Regions from separate parts of the Homo sapiens genome. Here all the other regions are linked to region 2. The links come from fine-mapping of genetic effects on gene expression. A gene starts in region 2. Each other region holds a variant in brackets. All regions are shown on one strand. Distances are from middle to middle. Region 1 overlaps HNRNPM (heterogeneous nuclear ribonucleoprotein M). Region 2 holds the start of PRAM1 (PML-RARA regulated adaptor molecule 1). Region 3 overlaps MYO1F (myosin IF).

Evidence for each region. PIP is the estimated chance that this variant, and not a neighbour inherited with it, causes the effect.
Region 1: its variant is the best candidate, but not a certain one, in a credible set for the expression of PRAM1 in whole blood (INTERVAL, PIP 0.81).
Region 3: its variant is the best candidate, but not a certain one, in a credible set for the expression of PRAM1 in whole blood (TOPMed, PIP 0.78).

Annotation. Positions count from the first base shown.
Region 1 is chr19:8,463,781-8,471,955 of GRCh38, reverse strand. It overlaps HNRNPM (heterogeneous nuclear ribonucleoprotein M), which reads right to left. Exons shown (of 16, transcript NM_005968.5): 6 at 6,441-6,632; 7 at 5,568-5,721; 8 at 4,372-4,421; 9 at 3,122-3,182; 10 at 529-630. Among named protein-coding and RNA genes, the nearest start is that of HNRNPM, 23 kb to the right of the region's middle. The variant A/G (reference allele first, on the strand shown) is at 3,336.
Region 2 is chr19:8,498,896-8,507,070 of GRCh38, reverse strand. It overlaps PRAM1 (PML-RARA regulated adaptor molecule 1), which reads left to right and starts at 4,431. Exons shown (of 10, transcript NM_032152.5): 1 at 4,431-4,506; 2 at 7,291-8,175. The coding sequence starts at 4,480. RefSeq lists enhancers at 140-726, 766-1,266, 7,876-8,175 and silencers at 810-1,069, 1,180-1,279, 1,300-1,349.
Region 3 is chr19:8,547,940-8,556,114 of GRCh38, reverse strand. MYO1F (myosin IF) reads left to right here. Exons shown (of 28, transcript NM_012335.4): 2 at 319-456; 3 at 1,372-1,461; 4 at 1,544-1,638; 5 at 2,678-2,765; 6 at 2,887-2,976; 7 at 3,951-4,082; 8 at 4,241-4,375; 9 at 5,421-5,553; 10 at 5,759-5,955; 11 at 7,798-7,878; 12 at 7,993-8,079. Among named protein-coding and RNA genes, the nearest start is that of MYO1F, 25 kb to the left of the region's middle. RefSeq lists a silencer at 3,064-3,264. The variant G/A (reference allele first, on the strand shown) is at 3,415.

The sequences.
Region 1 (8,175 bases), 35 kb after region 2:
TGTGATCCGCCCACCTCGGCCTCCCAAAGTGCTGGGATTACAGGCGTGAGCCACCGTGCCTGGCCTCTCCACCTTTTTTGCATCTATCAATGCCCCTAGCTCTCTAGCAGCAGCTGTGCAAACACCAGGAGGGCCCAAAGGGGTCTTGGTAAGACACTTTTCAGGGCACTGCGGCAGTGCTATGGTCCCGTGGTCAGGAGACCTGCAGCCTGTCAGTAACTGACAGTGTGACCTTGAGCAAGATCAACTCTCTGGCTTGCCTCCTCTTATCAAATGGCACAACTATTTCAGCTTAGAAGGTTGTTGTCAGGTTACAATGAAAAAGCATAATGACTTTTTAAAAAATGACTCAACTTGATAAAAATACAAAATACTGCCTTTATTCAAAATGAGGCAGAGATGAATAAGGAGGGAATTTTGTCCCAGTTAAATATTTATTCCATTTAAACTACTCAAAGTCCAGTTGTCCCAATAATTAATAATTTTCACTTCCCCAAACCACCAAGCAAGGTGCACTGTCATTCTCACCTGCGGGACCTATGTTTCCCATTCCGATGCCTTTATTCAGGTGATTGGCATCAATGGGTTGCCCTCCTGGTCCTAACCCCATGCCAATACCACCAAGGCCATCTGGAAAGAAAAGAGAAAGAAGCTTAGTTTTCCCCTATTTAGCAAACCTTGACCCTCAAAGGAAAAGAGTGTTTAGTGAGTTGCAGCTATCCACTTCAGCCTACCCACCCCCACCCACCAGTGACCTCAGGGCCCAATGCAAAATTCAACATCGGCACACTTGGAAACAGAGCCTTGTTCCGGCGTTTGGGATATGTGTGTATACAACAAAGGCGGCTGAAAACCAACACGGGAAAGTTAACAACCCCCACACTAAGATTCTTGAGAGCCTATTTGTTTCACTAACCCATGGACTGAGAACTGTCTGATCAAAAAAGGTGACTCAAGACATCAGGTGGCAAGCAGCACAAATGTGCCCAATCCCTAGTAGCCCAAAGGATGTTTCTCATGAAAAAACACGTTACAAACCAGCCAATCAACATCCTGGGTGTCCACTACTCTCTGAATCTGGGTGGTTTTAGTAACAATGAAGCTAATGTATGTATTCAAAGAACCTATCTTCCTTCCCCCAAAGCTTCCCAACCCACAACTGGATACCCAGCCCACACTCAACTCCATGCCCTACCAACACAGACAGGGACACAGAAATACAGGCTGGTCTCTGGAAACAGCCAAAAGAGCTGACACTTGCAATATCTGGGGTAACCACCATCTGAGGCTTAAACTACAACCAGGTAAGCTTTTAAAAATCGTAACAAGGGCAGGCGCAGTGGCTCACGCCTGAAATCCCAGCACTTTGGGAGGCCAAGGCGGGTGGATCACGTGAGGTCAGGAGTTCGAGACCATCCTGGCCAACATGGCAAAACCCCATCTCTACTAAAAAAAAAAAAAAATTAGCCTGGCATGGTGGCACATGCCTGTAATCGCTGCTACTTGGAAGGCTGACAGGAGAATCACTAGAACCCAGGAAATGGAGGTTGCAGCAAGCCAAGACCGCACCACTGCACTCCAGCCTGGGCGACAGAGCGAGACTCCATCAAAAAGAAAGAAAAAGGAAGAAAGGAAGGAAAGAAAGCAAACAAAGTTCATTTAAAAAGTAAATAAAACCTGCCACCACTTCCCAGGCGTTTCATCTGATGAACATTCCATCTTTAATTGCATAGCAACAGCAGCAAGAGATCGCCACGGTGACTTACTCTCCCAAAGCACTGAAGGCTTTGAAGTCAAGCCTCCGAAATGGCCGGGAGACCAAGAGCCATGGATAACAGGCTCCCTGGAGCAGTGTGCTCCTCCTCCTGCTCCAGCACAAGAGTCAACAAGAGCCATCGCCATGGTCCAGGGTGACCACTGCTCAGGTGAGCACACTGACAATTTATTTGGGAAATGAGTATGTTATGTCCAGGAAATGCAATCCTTCTCTAACTAATGTTGCCTTTCAACAGATGAGCCTTCTCATGAAGCCACAGATTTCCCTTCAAGATACATCTGTCATGCTGCCATAATGCTACGCTGCAAAGGTGCTCTGGCCTGGGCTCCCATCCAACTCAGTGAGTAGGGCCCTGAGCTTGAGCTGCTGCTCCAGACCAGGCCCCCTCAACCCGCCTGGTGGAGGTCACCCCAGCACAGCACACACAGGCCTCTCACCCTCATCCATCTTTCTTCTCCAGGAGAGCTTTACCTGCGCCAGTGATTCCCTGAGTCGTCCCACCGCTGTATGCACTGAGGTTCTTGCTTCCAGCCTCTGGCTTATCTATGACTCTGCACTAATATTTGCCACTTCTACCTATGTGGTAGCCCATCAACTAGCCTTCCCTGTCACGAGACAGATTTTCACCTGGGTGTCACAAATAGCTGATCCCTTTCCCCTCTGCATACAAATTATTTGTTCAAGACACTTCACATACCATAAAACTCAAAGTATTCGGTGGTTTTTAGTATATTCAGAGATATGCAACTATCACTACCATTTAATTCCAGAACATTTTCATCACCCAAAAAAGAAATCCAACCTTATTAGCAGTCCCGTCCCTACTTACTCCTTCCCGGCCTCAGGCAACCACTAATCTACTTTCTGCCTTTATGCATTTATCTATGCGGAGCATTTCCTGTAGATGAAATCGAGGTTCATCCACACTGCAGCATGTGTCTTTCATCCTGCTGCAAACATCTGCGTGCGAATTTCTGTGCAGATGTCTAGTGTGCACTGCTAGCCCACATGGGACTAACCAGTATCTTCTGAATTAGAGTGCAGCCTGGTTTTCATTCCCTTCACAGGTTCTGATTCTTCCTTCCCCAGGACACTTTCAAAATGCCTAACCACATCCTCTACATCCTGGTATTACAATCCTAGGATTACCATGAGGTAATCCTAACAATATCCTCAAGTTGTGAATCTCTGCTCATTTCTCACCCTGAAAAATCTATAGAAAAGAACTGGCCAAGAGAACTGAGGGCTAACCTGGCACAGGTTCAAGTGAAACCATATGGTAATTTTCTGTTTATTAGTGTAACTCCAATTCAAACTCTCAGCCCTAATCACTGAAACACTTACGGGGAAGTTGTTGTGGACGCTCAGGAGGGAAGAAATCTCCTTTTGGTAAGGCCCTCTCATCCTGAAAGAGAAAGAAAACAAACAAATCTCAGTATCCAGTGCAGCAGTGTTTGCAACAGCAAAAGACTGAAATGGCCCCCCATCAAGAGAGGACCAGCTAAACACATTATCCACGCCATGGAGTAATACGCAAGGGTAGAAAGGCATGCGGAGC[A/G]TGCTTCCTATTTTATGTCAAGGGAAAAGACACATGGATATTATTGTGGGGGATGATGGGGACCTGGGCAAGAAGTCCAAGTAGGACTCACACTATCTTCACACTACCTTTTCATGCCTTTTGACTTTTGAGTCACGTGAATCTATCATCTATTCAAAAAACTTACCTACTCTATTTAGAGTAATGAAAAAATTGCTTTATAGTTTATCTTTTTCCTGAATTTGAGTCCCAACTAGACTGCCCTCAGCATGTTCCAGTCATGCCTGTAGTAATTATTATCTTTGGCACAGTTACGGCAGAGCAAATGTTTATTAAGATTGAAGTGCTCCAACAGACCTTTAAAAGCTGTCTGAATCAATGACTTAATTATGTTCACAACAGATTTGATGCTAACCAAACATTATACTGTAATACTTTGAAAAACTGGAACCCCACATATATAACCATTCTTTGAAACGGATCACTTGCTCAACCAGGATACCCAGGTGACTTCCTGAATGCGCCATGAACAGTCAACTGTGCAAAAGGAAAAATATCTAATGCAGTCAAGAGCTGCCATGAGCAAAATGTTTTTTTTTCTTCTTTTTTTTTCTTGAGACAGAGTCTCACTCTGTTGCCCAGGCTGGAGTGCAGTGGCACGATCTCGGCTCACTGCAGCCTCTGCCTCCCACGTTCAAGTGATTCTCCTGCCTCAGCCTCCCGAGTAGCTGGACTACAGGCGCGTGCCACCACGCCCGGCTAATTTTTGTATTTTTAGTAGAGACGGAGGAGTTCCACCACGTTGGTCAGGCTGGTGTCGAACTGCTGACCTCATGATCCGCCTGCCTCAGACTCCCAAAGTGCTGGGATTACAGGCGTGAACCACCACGCCTGACCAGCAAAATGTTATTTCTCTCACAATTTTGCTCAACATACTGCACCCTATTTAACTTAGACTAATCCACAAATATTTCATAGTGGCTATATGTACACTCTTATTAATTCCATGTTTTTGCTAGACTTGAGTATATCACAGAGAAAGATCCTACTGACTTACCATCTTGACGTGCATTGGTCTATCAAATAGCAGCTGGCCATTGAACATAGCTGGTATTACAATTAAGGCTATTTCTTGCAATTCTAAAAATGTGCACAAGAGAAATACAAAAAGAAAGAAAAATACTCCAACTGCTACCAGTCCCTCTAAGTGATGAATTTATGAGCAATTTCAATTCTTCATTATACTTTCAACAATAAACATAAAAGGAACAATAAATAAAGCTGGCGGGGAGGACAAGACAACTTCCGCTTATTCCTTAGGTGTGAAGCTTCATTCGTAACCTTACAATTTCACCAAACCATCCTCTTAAGCAGTGGCATCAAGGTTCTCTGAATGTGACCAATGGGCCAGGCATCTACCACTATCTAAACTGAAGGACCATGTTTTCTGGGTAAGACATGCAGTGACGGTCTTGTCTGAGTTGTATGAATGTGCTCCTGTGGGGTACTCTCCAAGGGATTAAAAACTCTAGGCTAAGCCTAGGGTCAAGGAGAAGTGGCCTCTTCCAAAATGATGTCTACTCACTGGAAAGAGTGAGGTCCTATAAGGATGTATTACACATGAAACAACAACCCCACTTTCTCTCTAGTAGCACATTCTTTGGACTTCCTCCTTCAAACCTAGACTCTTCTGAAAAGAAAACAGTAGAAAGACTCATGGGCATATGCCCATGTTGTAACCATCCCCTCTATCCACACTGTATTGAATCAATTCCACCCCCAGAGAACCTTTTTTTTTTTTTTTTTTTTTTTTGAGACTGAGTCTCACTCTATCACCCAGGCTGGTGGTGTGCAGTGGCGCAATCTCGGCTCACTGCAACCTCCACCTCCCGGGTTCAAGCGATTCTTGTGCCTCAGCCTCCCGAGTAGCTGGGATTACAGGCACCCACCACTGCGCCCAGCTAATTTTTGCATTTTTTAGTAGAGCCGGGGTTTCACCATGTTGGCCAGGCTGGTCTCGAACTGACCTCAAGTGATCCGCCCGCCTTGGCCTCCCGAAGTGCTGGGATTACAGGCGTGAGCCACCGTGACCGGTCCGGCCCAGAGAACCTCTTAATTCCACAGTAATGCACTCCCCCTAGTCACATAAAAAACATGAATACACACAGTCACCTCTTCCTCACACAAACCTACATTACTAACACAGCAATTTAGGTCAAACTGTTCATAAGTTGAATTCCTGCAGAAGGATACATATAGCTTGCACAGCTTCAATGGACTGTTCAAAAGTAACAGTGCCTATTCCACGACTTTTTCCATCTTTATCTTCAAGAATGTCTGCTCGGACCACCACACCAGCCATACTAAATACTTCCTTCAGTTTCTTCCAGCCAACTTTATAATCCAGCTAATCGAGAGAGAACGGGGTAAAAACCTCAATGTAAACATCTTAAGAAACACAACATTTTTACTACATGAATGATACATGCTTTGGTTGGAAAAAAGTATTAGGAAATAATGTCACAAAAACTAATCAACTGCAATGGAAATTTTAAAATAGGATTATAAAGCCTGGCCTTCACTGTAAATAAACTGTACCTATAGTAAATATATTGTCTCTTTTCTCAGAAACTTAAGTCACCTCATACTTCAAATTAATACTCATTTTCTGAACATTTTTAAAAAATTGTTTCCCTGATAAGCTTTACCACTCCCCACCCCACCCAACCTACTTTATTCTAAAAATATTTCCCCTTGCAGATGGTGGAGGTATTATCATTCACCCCAGACACAACAAGAGGAAGGTGTCAGTGCACTTCTGCTCGTACAGTCTTACTCTGCACCAAAACTGCATAAAATAAACCAACGGAGAATGCAGACTCGGTTACTGCTTGCGGAAACACCTGCGAAACTCAGGAATCACAGCCCCAACGAGACCACGGTCAAGCCTGTGACTTAGGAATGCAGACAAAGCCCGCCTATAAGGCTGATTTTTAAAGAAATCAAGAACAAAACCCTTCTTTACATTTTTCTTCTCAAATGTGAGAATTACTTTTATAACATATTGACAAGGTCATTTCATAAAGTTCTGATTTTCTACTTTAGACGATGGTTCTGTTTACTTACATTTGCTACAAATACTGTGCTTCCAAGTCTTCCAGCCTGTAATGCATGGATAATCTCATTTGGGATGTTGGGATTATTTAGGATACTGGGTGGGATAGTAATCATTCCTGGGCCACCTGGTCCCATACCCATCCCACCAGTCGTAGCCATCACCTTTTGCATTGCTCTCCTGGCATGTTCACCATCAGGATCCTAAAACAAGCACAAAAGGTGTTACGTTTAACTGACCCAGTACAACGCAAACCATGCTTGCACAGTAAATGATATTCTCAAGACTTAGAAACTGAAAGGTTGTTTGGAAAGCATCTCTCAAATCTATTAACAAGAAAGTCAAATGAACTCAACTACCAGCTTAGAAGAGTCCAGCTAAAGAAATAGGAAAGGAAGAAAAGGCATGAAGTGTAGCACTAAAAACACAGCTCTCAATTGCACTAAGTAAAAAAGAAAAGCAGGGTAGGGAGGGAAACATGATTAGCTGATATAATGTAGAACCGCCAGACTGAAATTAGAGCTTCATGGGCTTGGTATAGCTGAATCTTACTAATTCATCAATGGGGTTTTGTAACTTCTGCAAACCCCGTCAATGGCTTCCAGAAGTTTGAGAAACAGTTCTAGACCACACAAGCGCCCCCATCCTTCAAGTCCTTCAGGTGTTGGAGGCGTGTGTGTGAGGGCTGCGCAGTAAAACAACATCTGGGAAGGTCTGTGAAGCTCTGTACTGACTCTCTTCTTCAACTCTCTGTCCTGTCAATTACCACCATCAGCACTAAAAAAGACATCATAACACATGAGAGACCTTAGACCCTACCAAGCTTCACTCTGAATCTACTCATCTTCCTCCCCAAGAGAAGAGGTGAAAAGAAGTTAAGAGGGATGTTTTTTTGAGACAGAGCTTTGCTCTTACTGCCCAGGCTGGAGTTCAATGGCGCGATCTCGGCTCACTGCAACCTCCGCCTCCTGGGTTCCAGCGATTCTCCTGCCTCAGCCTCCCGAGTAGATGGATTACAGGCACCCCCCACTACGCCCAGCTAATTTTTTGTATTTTTAGTAGACAGGGTTTCACCATGTTGGTCAAGCTGGTCTTGAACTCATGACCTTGATCCACCCACCTCAGCCTCCCAAAGTGCTGGGGATTACAGGCGTGAGCCACTGCGCCCAGCCAAGAGGGATTTAATCAACAAAAAAACCTTCTTCCTCAAGGAATATATTTGATTCAGATGAGATGTGAAAGCAGGTTTGAGGAATAACAAACTCACTTTATTTTTTTATTTTTTAGACAGGGTCTCACTGTTGCCCGGGCTGGAGTGCAATGGTGCAATCTCAGCTCACTGCAACCTCCACATCCTGGGCTCAAATGATCCTCCTGCCTCAGCCTCCCAAGTAGCTAGGACTACAGGCATGCGCCACCATGCCTGGCTAATTTTTGTACCTTTTGTAGAGAGGGGGTTTCACCATGTTGCCCAGGCTGGAACAAACTCACTTTTTAAAAAAAGAAAAAAGATGGGCCAAGAAGAAGGGTCAGATGGAGTAAAACTTAATGGCACAAACCCACGGGCTCATGGTTTGAGAGTCCCTGAGACAACAAGGCCTCAGACAAATCACAGATATTAGAAGGTGGTCAGCAGCCACTCAGGATCTGCTTGGCCACCACCCCAAAGTCCTTGCAGGGAATGGCTGCTGTAGGCTATGACCGACACTCTTCATTAGAAACAACAGGCTGGCACTTGCTTTGTAA
Region 2 (8,175 bases):
GAGAGGCTGCAGGGAGAGGAGGGGCTTGGGAAATGTCTGCTGAGAACTTCACGTCCCGAGCCCATGGCTGCCTGGGACTCTCTCGACCTGGGGAGGAGGGTGGGACAGGGTGAAGGGGCCCATTTTACAGATATATAGAGAAGGTGAGGCTAGGAGGCCTCTAGCCAGCCCCAGTTCCCAGTCAGCGGCACTGATTCTGCACCATCTTGGGAGCTGCGCACGGTTACCACGAGAAGAGAAAACCCTGCCAGCAGGTCCAGAGGACACGCCCCTGTTCCCGCATTCTGCAGGTCCCTAGATCTGGCTGTAGTCCAAGCCTCTCCCCCATCTCCAGGGACAGCGCTGTGTTCTCTGTCCCCCAGGCCCCTAACCCCTCTCCAGGGTCCCGGGGGCCCCCAGGAGTCTTTGTCCCCATCAGTTTCTTTATTCGGCCACCCCCAGATCTAGGCCACGCCTCTTCCCAGTCTGTCAGTATCTTTCCAGAGAAACCTAGAGCCAACACGTCCGTCCAGGGACCTCTCCCCTACCCCATCACCCACGGAGATGGGACAGCCCTTCCTGTGTGTACAGCGGGCCCACGGCCACCACACTACCCTCTGGAGTGAACTGACTGCCGCGAGGCCTGGGGAGCTGGCTCACCACCTGTCCTCCACCGTTCACCCTGTCCACTGCAGAAACGACCTCCTACCCTCAAGCCGGCCCCCAACCCCCATGCACAGGAGCCCAGCCCTCTTGGGCCCCGGCTCCGCCCAGCAGGGGGCGCCCAGGAATCTCAGACTCGGGGGAATGAAAGCCGGGAGAGCAGTGGGGATAGCGGGCAGGTTGGCTGGAAGCCGCGGGCTCGCGCTGAACAGCTCTGAGGCCGGCCAGAGGCCCGTGCCCGGCATTTGTCCAGCCCCAGCTGTCACTTGCAGGTGCCGGTCCGGTTACCCTCATTGCGGGCCAGGAGCGGGGAGGTGGAGGGCGCCCTGCGGCCCTGGGATCCGCCGCCCACGTGCTCCCCGGGCTCCTCCCCCTGCACACCGTTGTTCGCGTTTCCGACCCCGCAGATTCCCCAAGGCGCGCCCTAACGAACTCTCACTCCCCTGGTCCGGGCTCCCTTCTCCGGGATTCCGGTAACCCTATCTGTCCCTGTCTGCAGCCGCGCCGCGCGGAACCCTGCCGGGAGCCCCTACGGAGGCGCCAAATACACAAAGGGTAGTTGGCGGGGAGGCGCACCATGACTACAGCTCCGGGACCTGCGCTTCACCCCCACGGCGCCCCCGTGGGGCCTTGGTGCGCGCGCCCTGGCTGGACCCTCCTAGCTGCGAGAGTGCACGGGTAGTGACCAGCCCAGGCACCTGGGAATCCATCAGCTGTCATCCAATCCTTTAATTACCTTGATTGAGCTCCTTACTGTGGCCAAGCATTGCTTGATTTATTTATTTACTTATTTTTATTATTTAATTTAATTTTTTTTTTTTTGAGACGGTGTCTCGCCTTGTCACCCAGGTTGGAGTGCAATGGCGCAATCTCAGCTCACTGCAACCTCCGCCTCCCGGGTTCAAGCGATTCTCCCGCCTCAGCCTCCCAGGTACCTGGGATTACAGGTGTGCACAAACAGTATTTTTAGTAGAGACAGGGTTTCATCATGTTGGCCAGGCTGCTCTCGAACTCCTGACCTCAGGTGATACGCCCGCCTGGCCTCCCAAACTTCTGGGATTACAGGCGTCAGCCACCGCGCCTGGCCACTTGTTCTTTCTTTCATTCTTTCCTTCACTTGCCAAGGTTCTGGAGACCCACAGAGAGCCCATACTGTCCTCCCGAGACTCCTTTTTGGGAGGGCAACCCACATCTGGGAACTGTGCCCCAGGACAGGATGCAAAGGCACAACAGAGATGGCAGAATCCTGATGTCTGTGCTCTTAAAGGAGGCGTGAAAACAGGCAGGCCAGGCGCAGTGACTAAGGCCTGTAATCCCAGCACTTTGGGAGGCCCACGTGGGTAGATTGCTTGAGGTCAGGAGTTTGAGACCAGCCTGGCCAATGGTGACACCCCAGCTCTGCTAAAAATCCAGAAAATTAGCCGGGCATGTTGGCAGGCACCTGTAATCCCAGCTACTTGAAGCCGGGAGGCAGCCTGGGAGACAGAGCAAGACTTTGTCTCAAAAAAAAAATTTTAAAATGTTTTAAAAATACTTGCTCGGGCCACACCCCAGACTGATTAAGTCAGAGTTTCTTGTAGGTTCTGTTTTTTGTTTTGTTTTTTTTTAGATGGAGTTTTGCTCTGTCACCCAGACTGGAGTGCAGTGGAGCCATCTCGTCTCACTGCAACCTCCGCCTCCTGGGTTCAAGCAATTCTCCTGCCTCAGCCTCCCAAGTAGCCAAGATTACAGGCATGCGCCACCACGCCGAGCTAATTTTTGTATTTTTAGTAGAGATGGGGTTTCTCCATGTTGCCCAGGCTGGTCTTGAACTCCCAACCTCAGGTGATCAACCTCAGGTGATCCACCCGACTCAGCCTCCCAAAGTGCTGGGATTACAGGCGTGAGCCACACTGCCCAACCGCCGGTTCTTTTTTTTTTTTTTTTAACTGTTCAGGCAATTCCAACATGTGCTCAAACTGAAAACCAGGGCTCTCTACTCTCTTAGCAGGTGTTTTCTCCCTTTGTCTACCGTGACGGAGATTACTGATCTCCTGTGGGCTGAGCTCTGTGGTCAGGGCTTGTCCTTATCTGGCCAGTCCTCGGCACCACAAGTGACTGCCTTCACCCCCTCTTGGCCCCTGTCTCTGTCTCCTGGTTCCTCTTCTCTCTACTACCTCTAACCTCTGGGAATCTGGTGTGTCCTCGGGTCCTCAGACCCCCTCACTCCTCCAGAACTGCAAAGCCTTTTTTTTTTTTTTTTTTTGAGATGGAGTCTCTCTCTGTCACCCAGCATGGAGTACAGTGGCGTGATCTTGACTCTGCAACCTCCGCCTTCAGGGTTCAAGTGATTCTCCCACCCCAGCCTCCCAAGCAGCTGGGACCACAGGCGTGCACCATCACACCTGGCTAATTTTATATTTTTTGTAGAGATGGAGTCTTGCTACATTGCCCAAGCTGGTCTTGAACTCCTGGGCTCAAGTGATCCTCCTGCCTCAGCCTCCCAAAGTGTTAGGATTACAGGCGTGAGCCACCGTGCGTGGCCCAGGTGCAAGGCCTTTGACACCACTCACCCACCGACCCCCAAATCTGCTGTACCAGCTAAGCTTTCTGCCCAGGGCGGCAGCCTGGGACATCCATGGCCTGTGATATCTGCCCCAGAACAAGTGAGTCCTGCTCAGAGCCGGGAATTGGATTTCATGGAAGTGTTGAAATGAGGAAGGCGGATGAGCCAACCAGGGCAGACAGCAGAGGCCTCACCCGGTCACATGGGCCCCCACGTCCTGGGCCTCTGGGCCTCCCCAGGAGCCTCCTAAACCCCAGAGCTGTCCGTACCCCTGATCTGCTGAGATCTCCCCATCCTGTGGCTCTCTAGCCCAGGAGGTCACCAGGGCCTGGCATGGAGTCCTCCCTGGAGTCCAGAGATGGGGACACCAAAGTAGTAGGAATGATGGGGACTATAGAGAGTAAGAAACTAGTTGGCCAGGCGTGGTTGCTCACGCCTGTAGTCCCAGCACTTTGGGAGGCCGAGGCGGGCAGATCATCTGAGGTTGGGAGTTTGAGACCAGCCTGACCAACATGGTGAAACCCCGTCTCTACTAAAAATACAAAAAATTAGCCGGCAGTGGTGGCACATGCATGTAATTCCAGCTACTCAGGAGACTGAGGCAGGACAATCGCTTGAACCTGGGAGGCGGAGGTTGCAGTGAGTCGAGATTGCGCCACTACACTCCAGCCTGGGCAACAAAGTGATACCCCGTCTCAAAAAAAAAAAAAAAAAAAAAAAAAAGAAAGAAACTAGTGACCATGTTAGGAACATGCGGGCAACCAGTGCCCCAAGCTTGGGACAGTAGCAGGCAGGACAGGAATTCAAGCGAAATAGAAGTGCCCAGCAGGGGCCGGGGCAGTGGCTCACACCTGTAATCCCAGCACTTTGGTAGGCCGAGGCGGACCGATCCCTTGAGGTCAGGAGTTTGAGACCAGCCTGCCCAACATGGTGAAACCCCTTCTCTACTAAAGATACGAAAAGTAGCCAGGAGCGGTGGTGCGCGCCTGTAATCCCAGCTACTCAGGAGGTTGATGCAAAAGAATTGCCTGAACCCGGGAGGCAGAGGTTGCAGTGAGCCGAGATGGCACCATGGCACTCCAGCCTGGGCGACAGAGCAAGACTCAGTCTCAAAAAAAAAGAAGTGGCTGGCAGGATCTGGAGACGGACTGGAGCCTCCCCACCTCCTTCCCTTCCTCCTCTGCCCTCCCCCGCCCCACCTCTAGCAGCCCCCACCCTGTGTGCTGACCGTGGAGCAGAAGCCACAGTCACTTCCTGAAGGCAGCGGCCCCAGCTCGGGTCCCACTCATCCCATGGCCCATCACCTGCCTGCAGCCATGGTGAGTGCTGGAAGAGGCCTGTGCCTCACTGGCTGGGAAGCAAGGGACACAGATGTTCCCAGAAGGATAGGATCCACCTGTGGAGGGGCGGGCGGGGGGGCGGGGGGTGGCTGCGAAAGACATCTGGGAAACGGGAAGGGTCGGCAAAAAGGACCCGAGGTAGGCGGCCACCAGGCACACCCCAGGACAGCGCGGGCTCCTGGGGGTTCACGCTCAGGTTGGGACTGCGAGGGGGACAGATGGGACTCCCCGGGGGGACAACTCCCGTCTCCCCAGGTCAACATGAGCAGCCATGTGGGAACGGGCTGCTGGGGTGAGAGCAGTGCTTTCCTGCGGGGTGACAAAGTGGGTCATGACCCTCCCCCGTCCAGTCACCCAAGTTGTGACCTGCTAACCCTGACTTATCTAGCCCTGTGGTCGCCCGGGAGCACTTCCTTCAAACCACTCGGGGCTTTGACAGGGGCACTTCAGGCCCCAGGTGGGAATTGCTGCCTTTCCAAGGAGCAATCCTGGTCTCTGGTCCTCTGGATGGGGAAAGTGAGGCACACGCAGGAAGCAAAGGCCACACGTTTCTGCCCTTTCCCTCCCCCAATCTCCTTGACCACAGGTGAAAGGGGCGTTTGTAGGACTAAGGAGGCCTGGCCTTCTTGTGAATCTGCCTACCTCTGTGAGGAGTGGTTGCAGGGCCAGCTAGGAGGGCAGCTGGGACAGCTGGGTATGCAGGAGACAGCGCCTGTGCCCACGGTGTCTGCACCAATCCTCTCAGGCACTGTCAACTGTGAGCATTCCTGACCATCAGCCCGCATGTCAGAGACGGTGTGAGAGGGACCGCATGGCCGTCTCCAGGCATCTCTGTGTTTTCCTGATGGTCAGGCTGAGTACATGGCTGTCTTTGTGCTGCCTGAATATTGTTTATTTCAGCAAATATTTACTGAGCACCTACCATGTTCCAGGCCCTGGGAAGACAGCAATGAATGAGCCAAGTCTCTGCCTTGCAGAGGCTGAGGAACTGAGGGAAGTTGTGGTGTAGAGAGACAAAAAAAAAAAAAAAAAAAAATCAAGACACATTAAAAACAATGTAAAATAGTATAATACGTAGGGGTGGGTACGATGGAGAAAATCATGCATGCTGAATGCAGGGCAGTAGTGGGATGGGGTGATCCATTTAAAATAGGGTGGTCTAGGCCAGGCGTGATGGCTCATGCACTTTGGGAGGCCGAGGTGGGTGGATCACTTGAGGTCAGGAGTTCGAGACCAGCCTGGCCAACATGGTAAAACCCTGTTTCCATTAAAAATACAAAAAAAATTAGCCAGGCGTCGTGGCAGACACCTGTGATCCCAGCTACTCAGGAGGCTGAGAATCGCTTGAACCCAGGAGGCGGAGGTTGCAGTATGGCGAGATTCCACCACTGCATTCCAACCTGGGTGACAGAGTGAGACTCCGTCTCAAAAAAAAAAAAAAAAAAGAAAGAAAGAAAAATAGGGTGGTCTAGGTTGGGCACGGTGGCTCACACCTGTAATCCCAGCACTTTGGGAGGCTGAGGCGGGTGGAGGGTGGATCACCTGAGGTCGTGAGTTTGAGACCAGCCTGGCCAACGTGGTGAAACCCTGTCTCTAGTTAAAATACAAAAATTAGCCAGGTGTGGTGGCGAGTGCCTGTAATCCCAGCTACTTGGGCGGCTGAGGCACGAGAATCATTTGAACCTGGGAAGTGGAGATTGCAGTGAGCCGAGATCGCGCCATTGCACTCCAGTCTGGGTGACAGAGCAAGACTCCATCTCAAAAAATAAAAATAAACAAATAGGGTGGCCTTGGATGGCCTCTCTAATAAGAAAATATGAGAACAGAGGCTGGGAGGAGGAAAAGGAGAGACCCAGGTGGTGCAGAGACATGTCCTGGGTCAGGGACAGGGCAGAGGCCCCGAGGTCGGAGGGAAGTGTTCAGGGTGCAGGGAGGAGAAGGTGGCTGGGTAGGGAGGCTGGTTCGCCCAGGCTTTTATGAGGCATTTAGCTTGAACTGTGGGGACATGAGGAAGCATTGCCGAGTTTTGAGCAGAGGGACACAAACAGACTCAGGGTTCAACAGGCTTCTCCCTCCAGCTGCCATGGGGGGAACTGACCAGGGAAGGGGGTAGGCAGAGGCCCAGGGAAGGGCTTGTTAGAGTAATCCAGGCAATTGGTTGGGGGAGGGCAGACACTGCCTCCCACTACCTCCTGGGGTGACAGTGGTGAAGGCAGTGAGAAGTGGTTGGATTCCGGATGTGTTTTGAAATTAGCACAGAAGGGACTGGGGGCCTGGGCGCGGCGGCTCAAGCCTGTAATCCCAGCTACTGGGGAGGCCGAGGTCGGGGGAATCATTGGAGCCCAGGAGTTGCAAGCTGCAGTGAGCTATGATTGCACCACTGCTCTCCAGCCTGGGCAATGGAACGAGACTGGAGACATGCAGTGGGAGGGGTGAAAGAATGAGGGGGTCAAGGATGCTGGGGGGGTGGGGTACCACCCATGGGGGGAGGGCAGTGGGACTGGAGGCTGCAGGAGGGATGTCGGGATCTCCAGTGCTGCTAGAGGAGGTTGGGTGTGGAATCAGCACTAAATGGAGAAGTAGGGAGGGGTGTCGGTCCCAGGATCCTAGGATCCATGGGGGCTCCTGGGAAAGAGCTGAGGGCTGACCGGGCCTGGGCGCAGGGGTGGTGGTTGTGGGCTGTGCCTGAGGGTCCCCAGGCCCATCCTTCCATGCCCCTTCTGTGTGTTTGAGCCCCTGCCTCATTGGCTCTGCGTCTCCTAGGAGAGCCATCAGGACTTCCGGAGCATCAAAGCAAAGTTCCAGGCCTCTCAGCCGGAGCCCAGCGACCTGCCCAAAAAACCTCCGAAGCCTGAGTTTGGTAAACTGAAGAAGTTCTCCCAGCCTGAGCTAAGCGAGCACCCCAAGAAGGCCCCGCTGCCTGAGTTTGGTGCAGTGTCCTTGAAGCCCCCGCCGCCTGAGGTCACTGACCTCCCCAAGAAGCCCCCGCCGCCTGAGGTCACTGACCTCCCCAAGAAGCCCCCGCCGCCTGAGGTCACTGACCTCCCCAAGAAGCCCCCGCCGCCTGAGGTCACTGACCTCCCCAAGAAGCCGTCCAAACTGGAGTTGAGTGACCTCTCCAAGAAGTTCCCACAGCTGGGGGCCACTCCGTTTCCAAGGAAGCCCCTGCAGCCTGAGGTCGGTGAGGCCCCTTTGAAGGCCTCGCTGCCGGAGCCTGGTGCGCCGGCCCGGAAACCCCTGCAGCCCGACGAACTCAGTCACCCCGCCAGACCCCCCTCCGAACCCAAATCCGGCGCATTCCCCAGGAAGCTCTGGCAACCCGAGGCCGGTGAGGCTACCCCGAGGTCCCCGCAGCCTGAGTTGAGTACCTTTCCCAAGAAGCCTGCGCAGCCTGAGTTCAACGTGTACCCCAAAAAGCCTCCGCAGCCTCAGGTCGGTGGCCTCCCTAAGAAGTCCGTGCCGCAGCCTGAGTTCAGCGAGGCCGCTCAGACTCCCCTCTGGAAGCCTCAGTCCAGCGAGCCGAAGCGCGACTCCAGCGCCTTTCCCAAAAAGGCCTCCCAGCCTCCGCTGAGTGACTTTCCCAAGAAGCCTCCGCAGCCTGAGCTTGGGGACCTCACCAGGACCTCCTCAGAGCCCGAAGTCAGCGTG
Region 3 (8,175 bases), 49 kb before region 2:
GGATGTTGCAGTGAGCAGAGATCACGCCACTGCACCCCAGCCTGACTGACAGAGTGAGACTCTGTCTCAAAATAAATAAATAAATAAAAATTAAAAATTAAAAAAAAATAGAGGGCTGAGGGCTGGATCCGAGCAGTGCAACTTCTGTCTGGGGCAGGGGGCCTGGCTTGGACCCTGCCAGCCTCTCCTGGAGATGGGGAAGGAGGAATGGAGGTGGGGCGGGGGAGGTGGGACAGAACCCAGAAGCTGATAGCGTCGGTGAGCCAGGTGCCGCATCCCCGTGCAAGGGCTCACCCCGACCCCCCTCTCACCCCCCAGGGCAGCAAGGAGCGCTTCCACTGGCAGAGCCACAACGTGAAGCAGAGCGGCGTGGATGACATGGTGCTTCTTCCCCAGATCACCGAAGACGCCATTGCCGCCAACCTCCGGAAGCGCTTCATGGACGACTACATCTTCGTACCCTGGGCCAAGGCTGGGGGTGGGCAGGCAGGGAAGGAATGAATGGCTGGGCCATGGACGGAGAGGAGGGTGAAGGAGCAGAGGGAGGAATGGGCCGGGAGAGCACCAAGTGGTGACACAGAGGACAGACAGAGTGACAGCAGGGCTCTGGTTGGGGGCAGCTGTGGCTGCCACTGCTCCCTCTGTCCTGGGGAAGCTCAGCCCCAGCGTGTTCCATTTCCCCCATTCCGGATCCAACCCTGTTTGTTCTTTTTTTTTTTTTTTTTTTTTTTTTTTTTTGAGACGGAGTCTTGCTCTGTCGCCCAGGTTCCAGGCTGGAGTGTAGTGGCACAATCTCAGCTCACTGCAACCTCCACCTCCCGGATTCAAATGATTCTCCTGCCTCAGCCTCCCAAGTAGCTGGGATTATAGGCATGCGCCACCATGCCTGGCTAATTTTTTTGTTTTTGCTTTTTGTGTTTTGTGTTTTGTTTTTGAGACTGAGTGGCTCTTGTTGCCCAGGCTGGAGTGCAATGGCACGATAGCTCGCTGCAACCTCTGCCTCCCAGGTTCAAGCGATTCTCCTCCCTCAGCCTCCCAAGTAGCCGGGATTACAGGCATGCACCACCATGCCCGGGTAATTTTTTGTATTATTAGTGGAGACAAGGTTTCACCATGTTGGCCAGGCTGGTCTCAAACTCCTGACCTCAAGTGATCCGCCTGCCTCGGCCTTCCAAAGTGCTGGGATTACAGGCATGAGCCACCGCGCCCGGCCAGCCCTGTTTTTTCCAAGAGACTCGAGGTGCATCCATTATCTCCATCTCTTCCACCTCCAAGCAATGGAGTTTTAGGAAGCCCTGGGTGGGGGCAGGATGAGGGGACAGGGAGGACAAAACCTACCAGGACACCACACGACCCTTAACCATCCCTCAGACCTACATCGGCTCTGTGCTCATCTCTGTAAACCCCTTCAAGCAGATGCCCTACTTCACCGACCGTGAGATCGACCTCTATCAGGGCGCGGTGAGGCTGGGGCTGGGTGGGAGGCACAGCCCCCAGACTCCTGGCCCCCAGCCCTGGGCTGAGACCTGACCTCCCCTGCCAGGCCCAGTATGAGAATCCCCCGCACATCTACGCCCTCACGGACAACATGTACCGGAACATGCTTATCGACTGTGAGAACCAGTGTGTCATCATTAGGTATGGACAGAGTTGGGGGGCCACAGACCCTGCTGCCCGGGCCCCTGCTGAAACATCACCACCCCCAGGGAGGTTTGCCTGAAACTCCCAATCTGAACATTGCCCTGCTGTCCCTCTCTGCCCTCACTCTGTTTTATTTTCCTTGTCACCATCTGACTCACGATGTATTTTATTGATTCATTCTGCTATTGTCTGTCTGTCCCCTCTAAATGTCACCTCAGGCCAGGTGTAGTGGCTCATGCTTGTAATCCTGGCACTTTGGGAGGCCAAGGCGAGAGGATCTCTTGAGGCTAGGAGTTCAAGACCAGCCTGGGCAATATGGCAACATCCTGTCTCTGTATAGATAATAATTAGCCGGACACGGTGGTGCACGCCTGTAGTCCCCAGCTACTCAAGAGGCTGAGGAGGGAGGATTGCTTGAGCCCAGGAGTTCCAGGCAGGAACAGGTGCTATGATCACACCACTGCACTCCAGCCTGGGCAACAGAGTGAGACCCCATCTCAGTCAATCAATCGATGCCAGCTCTATGAGAGCAGAGAGAGAGAAAGAGAGCGAGAGAGAGAGAGAGAGAGAGAGAGAGAGTGTGTGTGTGTGTGTGTGTGTGTGTGACAGAGTCTCAGTCTGTCACCCAGGCTGGAGTGCAGTGGCACAACCTCAGCTCACTGCAACCTCTGCCTCCCAGGTTCAAGCAATTCTCCTGCCTCAGCCTCCTGAGTGGCCGGGATTACAGGCGCCCACCACCATGTCCGGCTAATTTTTGTATTTTAGTAGAGACTGGGTTTCACCATGTTGGCCAGGCTGGTCTCTAACTTTTGACCTCAAGTGATCCGCCCTCCTCAGGCTCCCAAAGTGCTGGGATTACAGGCAGGAGCCACCATGCCCGGCTGAGAGCAGAGATTTTATCTGTCTTGTTCATTACAGTATCCCCAGTACCCGGAATACTGGCAGGCACACAGTAGGTGCTCAATGAATGAATGGTCAGGCACTAAAAAGGGCTCTTCCCCAACCACTGATCATTTATTCCTCCATTCATCCCCAGTGGAGAGAGTGGAGCTGGGAAGACAGTGGCAGCCAAATATATCATGGGCTACATCTCCAAGGTGTCTGGCGGAGGCGAGAAGGTCCAGGTGAGACGAGGAAAACAGAAGGATAAGCTGGGTCGCCCTCACCTGCATGGTAGTGCAGCCCCACCCATCTGCACTCCTGCCTCAGTCTGACTTCTTCCCACTCCACCTGCCTCTGCCCCAGCACGTCAAAGATATCATCCTGCAGTCCAACCCGCTGCTCGAGGCCTTCGGCAACGCCAAGACTGTGCGCAACAACAATTCCAGCCGCTTTGTAAGTCTCTGCAGACCTGCTTGGAGCAGCTGCTCCCTCCGTGCTGACCTTTCTACACACACACCCACACATACACACACCCGTATTGCCAAGACAAGAGTCCATTGAAAACCCAGCAGGAAATACCTACTCCTGAAGGGGAGACTCACTTCCTGCTCATGGTCCCTTTCAAAAGAGAGTCCCCCATTGGCAGAACTGTGGAGGCCATGACACCCCTGTGTAACATTCTTAAATGCTCCCCCGGCTGCAGCCATGCTACATTGTTCCCATTCACATTTCAGGTCCAATTTATTCCCTCATCCATTCCTTCTTTCGACAATAGTTCTGGGACTCGTTCTTTGTGTGGGTGCTGCGCTGGGCCCAGTGAAAGTCAGGATAGGTAAACAGATATGGATTCAGGGTTTGATTCTATCACTGTGAGCTGTGTAGCCTGGGGGG[G/A]AAAAAAATCTATGCAACTTCCTGAGTTTCCTCTGTTTGCTCATCCATAAAATGGTGACGATGTTAATATCCATCTCATAGACTTCAGTATTACACCTGCACATGGACATGGTTTAATAAATTCCATACCCTTGGGCTGGGTGTGGGGGCTCACATCTGAAATCCCAGCACTTTGGGAGGCTGAGACAGGCGGATCACTTGAGGTCTGGAGTTCAAGACCAGCCTGGCCAACATGATGAAAAATACAAAAATTAGCTCTGCCAAAAATACAAAAATTAGCTGGGCATGGTGGCGGGTGCCTGTAGTCCCAGCTACTCAGGAGGCTAAGGCAGGAGAATCACTTGAACCCAGGAGGTGGACGTTGCAGTGAGCCGACATTGCGCCACTGAATCCCAGCCTGAGCAACAGAGTCAGATTCTGTCTCAAAAAAAAAAGGAAGAAGGGAAGAGAGGCAAGGCTCATAAGACCCATCCCCAACCCTTCCCCCACCTGCACCCCAGGACACTGGGGTGCTGACATGGTTCTCTCGGATTCAGGGCAAGTACTTTGAGATCCAGTTCAGCCGAGGTGGGGAGCCAGATGGGGGCAAGATCTCCAACTTCTTGCTGGAGAAGTCCCGCGTGGTCATGCAAAATGAAAATGAGAGGAACTTCCACATCTACTACCAGGTGCAGGGAAGGGGCCGGGGGAGAGGGAGCACCACCTGGAGCCCAGCGGGGTGGACAATGGGAAGGTAAACACCTAGGGGGGCATGGCAGGGCAGATGAGGGATCACAGGGGCTGAGCCAGGCAAGCACCAGATGCATGAACATGGCACACCCTCCAGCTGCTGGAAGGGGCCTCCCAGGAGCAAAGGCAGAACCTGGGCCTCATGACACCGGACTACTATTACTACCTCAACCAATCGGACACCTACCAGGTGGACGGCACGGACGACAGAAGCGACTTTGGTGAGACTCTGGTGAGCACCGGCCTCTACTCCAGTCCCCGGCCAGGCAGACCTCAGCCCCAGAAACCCTCCTGAGTTACAAATTAGGAAACCGAAGCCCAGGCCAGGCATGTGGCTCAAGCCTGTAATCCCAGCACTTTGGGAGGCCGAGGCAGGTAGATCACTTAAGGTCAGGAGTTTAAGACCGGCCTGGCCAACGTGGTTAAACCCCGTCTCTACTTAAAATACAAAAATTAGCCAGATGTGGTGGCGTGTGACTGTAATCCCAGCTACTGGGGAGGCAGAGGCAGGAAAATTGCTTGAAAACGGGAGGTGGAAGTTGCAGTGAGCCGAGATCACACTACTGCACTCCAGCCTGGGCAACAGAGTGAGACTACATCTCAAAAAAAAAAAAAAAAAAGGCCAGGCACGGTGGCTCACACCTGTAATCCCAGCACTTTGGGAGGCCGAGGCAGGTAGATCACCTGAGGTCAGGAGTTCAAGACCAGCCTGGCCAACATAGTGAAACCCCATCTTTATTAAGAATACAAAGATTAGCCGGGTATGATGCCATGCGCCTGTAGTCCCAGCTACTAGGGAGGCTGAGGCAGGAGAATCGCTTAAACCCGGGAGGTGGAGGTTGCAGTGAGCCAAGATAGCGCCGCTGCACTCCCGCCTGGGTGAAAGAGTGAGACTCTAAAAAAAAAAAAATAGGAAACCAAAGCCCAGTCCGGACACGACGCTCACGCCTGTAATCCCAGCTACTCGGGAGGCGGAGGCAGGAAAATCGCTTGAACCTGGGATGAGGAGGTTGCAGTGAGCCAAGATCATACCACTGCACTCCAGCCTGGGCAACAGAGGGAGACTCTGTCTCAAAAATAAAAAATATAATAAAAAACAAAGCCCAGAGAGGTGCAGGCACTTACCCAAGGTCACGCGGCAAGTGACTGAAAGGGGTAGGACAGGGACCCAAGGGTGCTCACTCCCTGAGTCCGTGCTGTGGTCCCTCAAGCCTGCCCCTGGAGGCAGGTTGGAGGCCAGGATTCACGGCACAGTTTCTGCCCCCGTTGTACCACAGAGTGCTATGCAGGTTATTGGGATCCCGCCCAGCATCCAGCAGCTGGTCCTGCAGCTCGTGGCGGGGATCTTGCACCTGGGGAACATCAGTTTCTGTGAAGACGGGAATTACGCCCGAGTGGAGAGTGTGGACCGTGAGTGTGGGTATCAGGGAGGGCTGGATGGAGGCCTGTGGGTGGGTGAACTGCGTCCTCCTAGCTCAGCCCCCAGGAAGCTGAAAGCCCACGAGGAAAAAAATGTGGGTGTCACTGGGCAAGATGGGGATAATAGGAGGCCCATGCAGGAGGCACAAGAGCCCAACCAACTGTCCCATTTTTGCCCTGACCTTTGCCCTGGTAGTCCTGGCCTTTCCCGCCTACCTGCTGGGCATTGACAGCGGGCGACTGCAGGAGAAGCTGACCAGCCGCAAGATGGACAGCCGCTGGGGCGGGCGCAGCGAGTCCATCAATGTGACCCTCAACGTGGAGCAGGCAGCCTACACCCGTGATGCCCTGGCCAAGGGGCTCTATGCCCGCCTCTTCGACTTCCTCGTGGAGGCGAGTGGGGCTGGGGCTGGAAGGCAGAGTGGATGCTCTGGGGTCACAAACATTTATGGAAGCTGAGTGCAGTGGCTCACGGCTGCAATCCCAATGCTTTGGGTGGCTGAGTTGGGAGCATTCTTTGAGGCCAGAAGTTCAAGACCAGCCTGGGCAACATAGCAAGACCCCCATCTCTACAGAAATTTCAAATTAGTTGGGTGTAGTGGTGTGCATGTGTAGTTCTGGCTACTCAGAGGGCTGAGGTTGGGGGATCATTTGAACCCAGGAGGTTGGGGCTGCAGTGAGCTATGATTGCGCTATTGTACTCCAGCCTGGGTGACAGAGCAAGACCCTGTCTCTAAAAAAAACTTTTGGCCAGATGCAGTGGCTCATGCCTGTAATCCCAGCACTTTGGGAGGCTGAGGTGGATGGATCACTTGAGGTCTGGAGTTTGAGACCAGCCTGGCCAACATGGTGAAACCCCCTCTCTACTAAAAATTACCCGGGAGTGGTGGCACATGCCTTTAATCCCAGCTACTTGGGAGGCTGAGGGAGGAGAATCACTTGAACCTGGGAGGTGGAGGTTGCAGTGAGCTGAGATCGTGCTATTGTATTCCAGCCTGGGCAACAGAGAGAGACTCTGTCTCAAAATAAATAAATAAATAAAATAAAAACTTTTTTAATGTATGGAGTCAGCCTGGGCAACATGGCAAAACCCTGTCTCTACAAAAATACAAAAATTAGCCGGGCATGGTGGCTGGTGCCTGTAATCCCGGCTACTCAGGAGGCTGAGGTGGAAGAATCCCTGACCCCAGGAGGTTGAGGCTGTAGTGAGCCATGATCAAGCCACTACACTCCAGCCTGGACAACAGACTGAGACCCTGTCTCAAAATAAAAAATAAAAATAAATAAAGTATAAAATGTATGGCCAGGTGCAGTGGCTCATGCCTGTAATCCCAGCACTTTGGGAGGTCAAAGCGGGCAGATCACCCAAGGTCAGGAGTTCAAGATCAGCCCTGGCCAGCATGGCAAAACCCCGTCTCTACTAAAAATACAAGAATTAGCCGGGCGTGGTGGCGCATGCCTGTAATCCCAGCTACTTGGGAGGCTGAGGCAGAAGAATCTCTTGAATCCTGGAGGCAGAGGTTTCAGTGAGCCGAGATTGCGCCACTGGCATTCCAGCCTGGGCAACAGAATGAGACTCCATCTCAAAAAAAATAGAAAAGAAAAAGCCCCATAAGGTAGTTGCTATTATCAACCCCTTTTAAAGATAAGAAAATAGAGGTGCAAGGCCGGGCGCAGTGGCTCACACCTGTAATCCCGGCACTTTGGGAGGCCGAGGCGGGCGGATCACGAGGTCAGGAGATCGAGACCACAGTGAAACCCCGTCTCTACTAAAAATACAAAAAATTAGCCGGGCGTGGTGGCAGGCCCTTGTAGTTCCAGCTACTTGGGAGGCTGAGGCAGGAGAATGGTGTGAACCCTGGAGGCGGAGCTTGCAGTGAGCCGAGATCATGCCACTGCACTCCAGCCTGGGCGACAGAGTGAGACTCCGTCTCAAAAAAAAAAAAGAAAAAAAAAAAAAGAAAATAGAGGTGCAGAGAGGTTCAGGGGCAGAGTCAGCTCTGGAGTCAGGGACCCTGATACACTGACACTTGGGTTTCTCCTCTGAGTGACTGATTATGGGGTGGGGAGACTGTACACAGAGCCAGGAAGGGCAGAGCTAAAGAGGGCTGGAGGGAAACTGGCATGAGGGGACATCACCCATGAAGTTGGCTAGGCGTGTGTCTAAGGAGTGGTGGGCAGGGGCTTCAGATCTGACCGATGCCCACTGACTTCCTGTCCCCACCCACACCGCAGGCCATCAACCGTGCTATGCAGAAACCCCAGGAAGAGTACAGCATCGGTGTGCTGGACATTTACGGCTTCGAGATCTTCCAGGTACGGCCCCCTGCCTCCAGCCCACATCCTGTCCTCCCTGGGGCAGCCCAGGGTGGCCACAAGAACTTCCAGCACCAGGACATTGAGGGAAGGACCCTTTTCCTCCTTCTGCAGAAAAATGGCTTCGAGCAGTTTTGCATCAACTTCGTCAATGAGAAGCTGCAGCAAATCTTTATCGAACTTACCCTGAAGGCCGAGCAGGTGGGCGGCCAAGCAGTCAGGGATGGGGGATCCTGGGGTGGGGGTGGGGTGGAAGGACCATGAGGATCCCTTAGCAACTAGGGGACACCCCAGCCC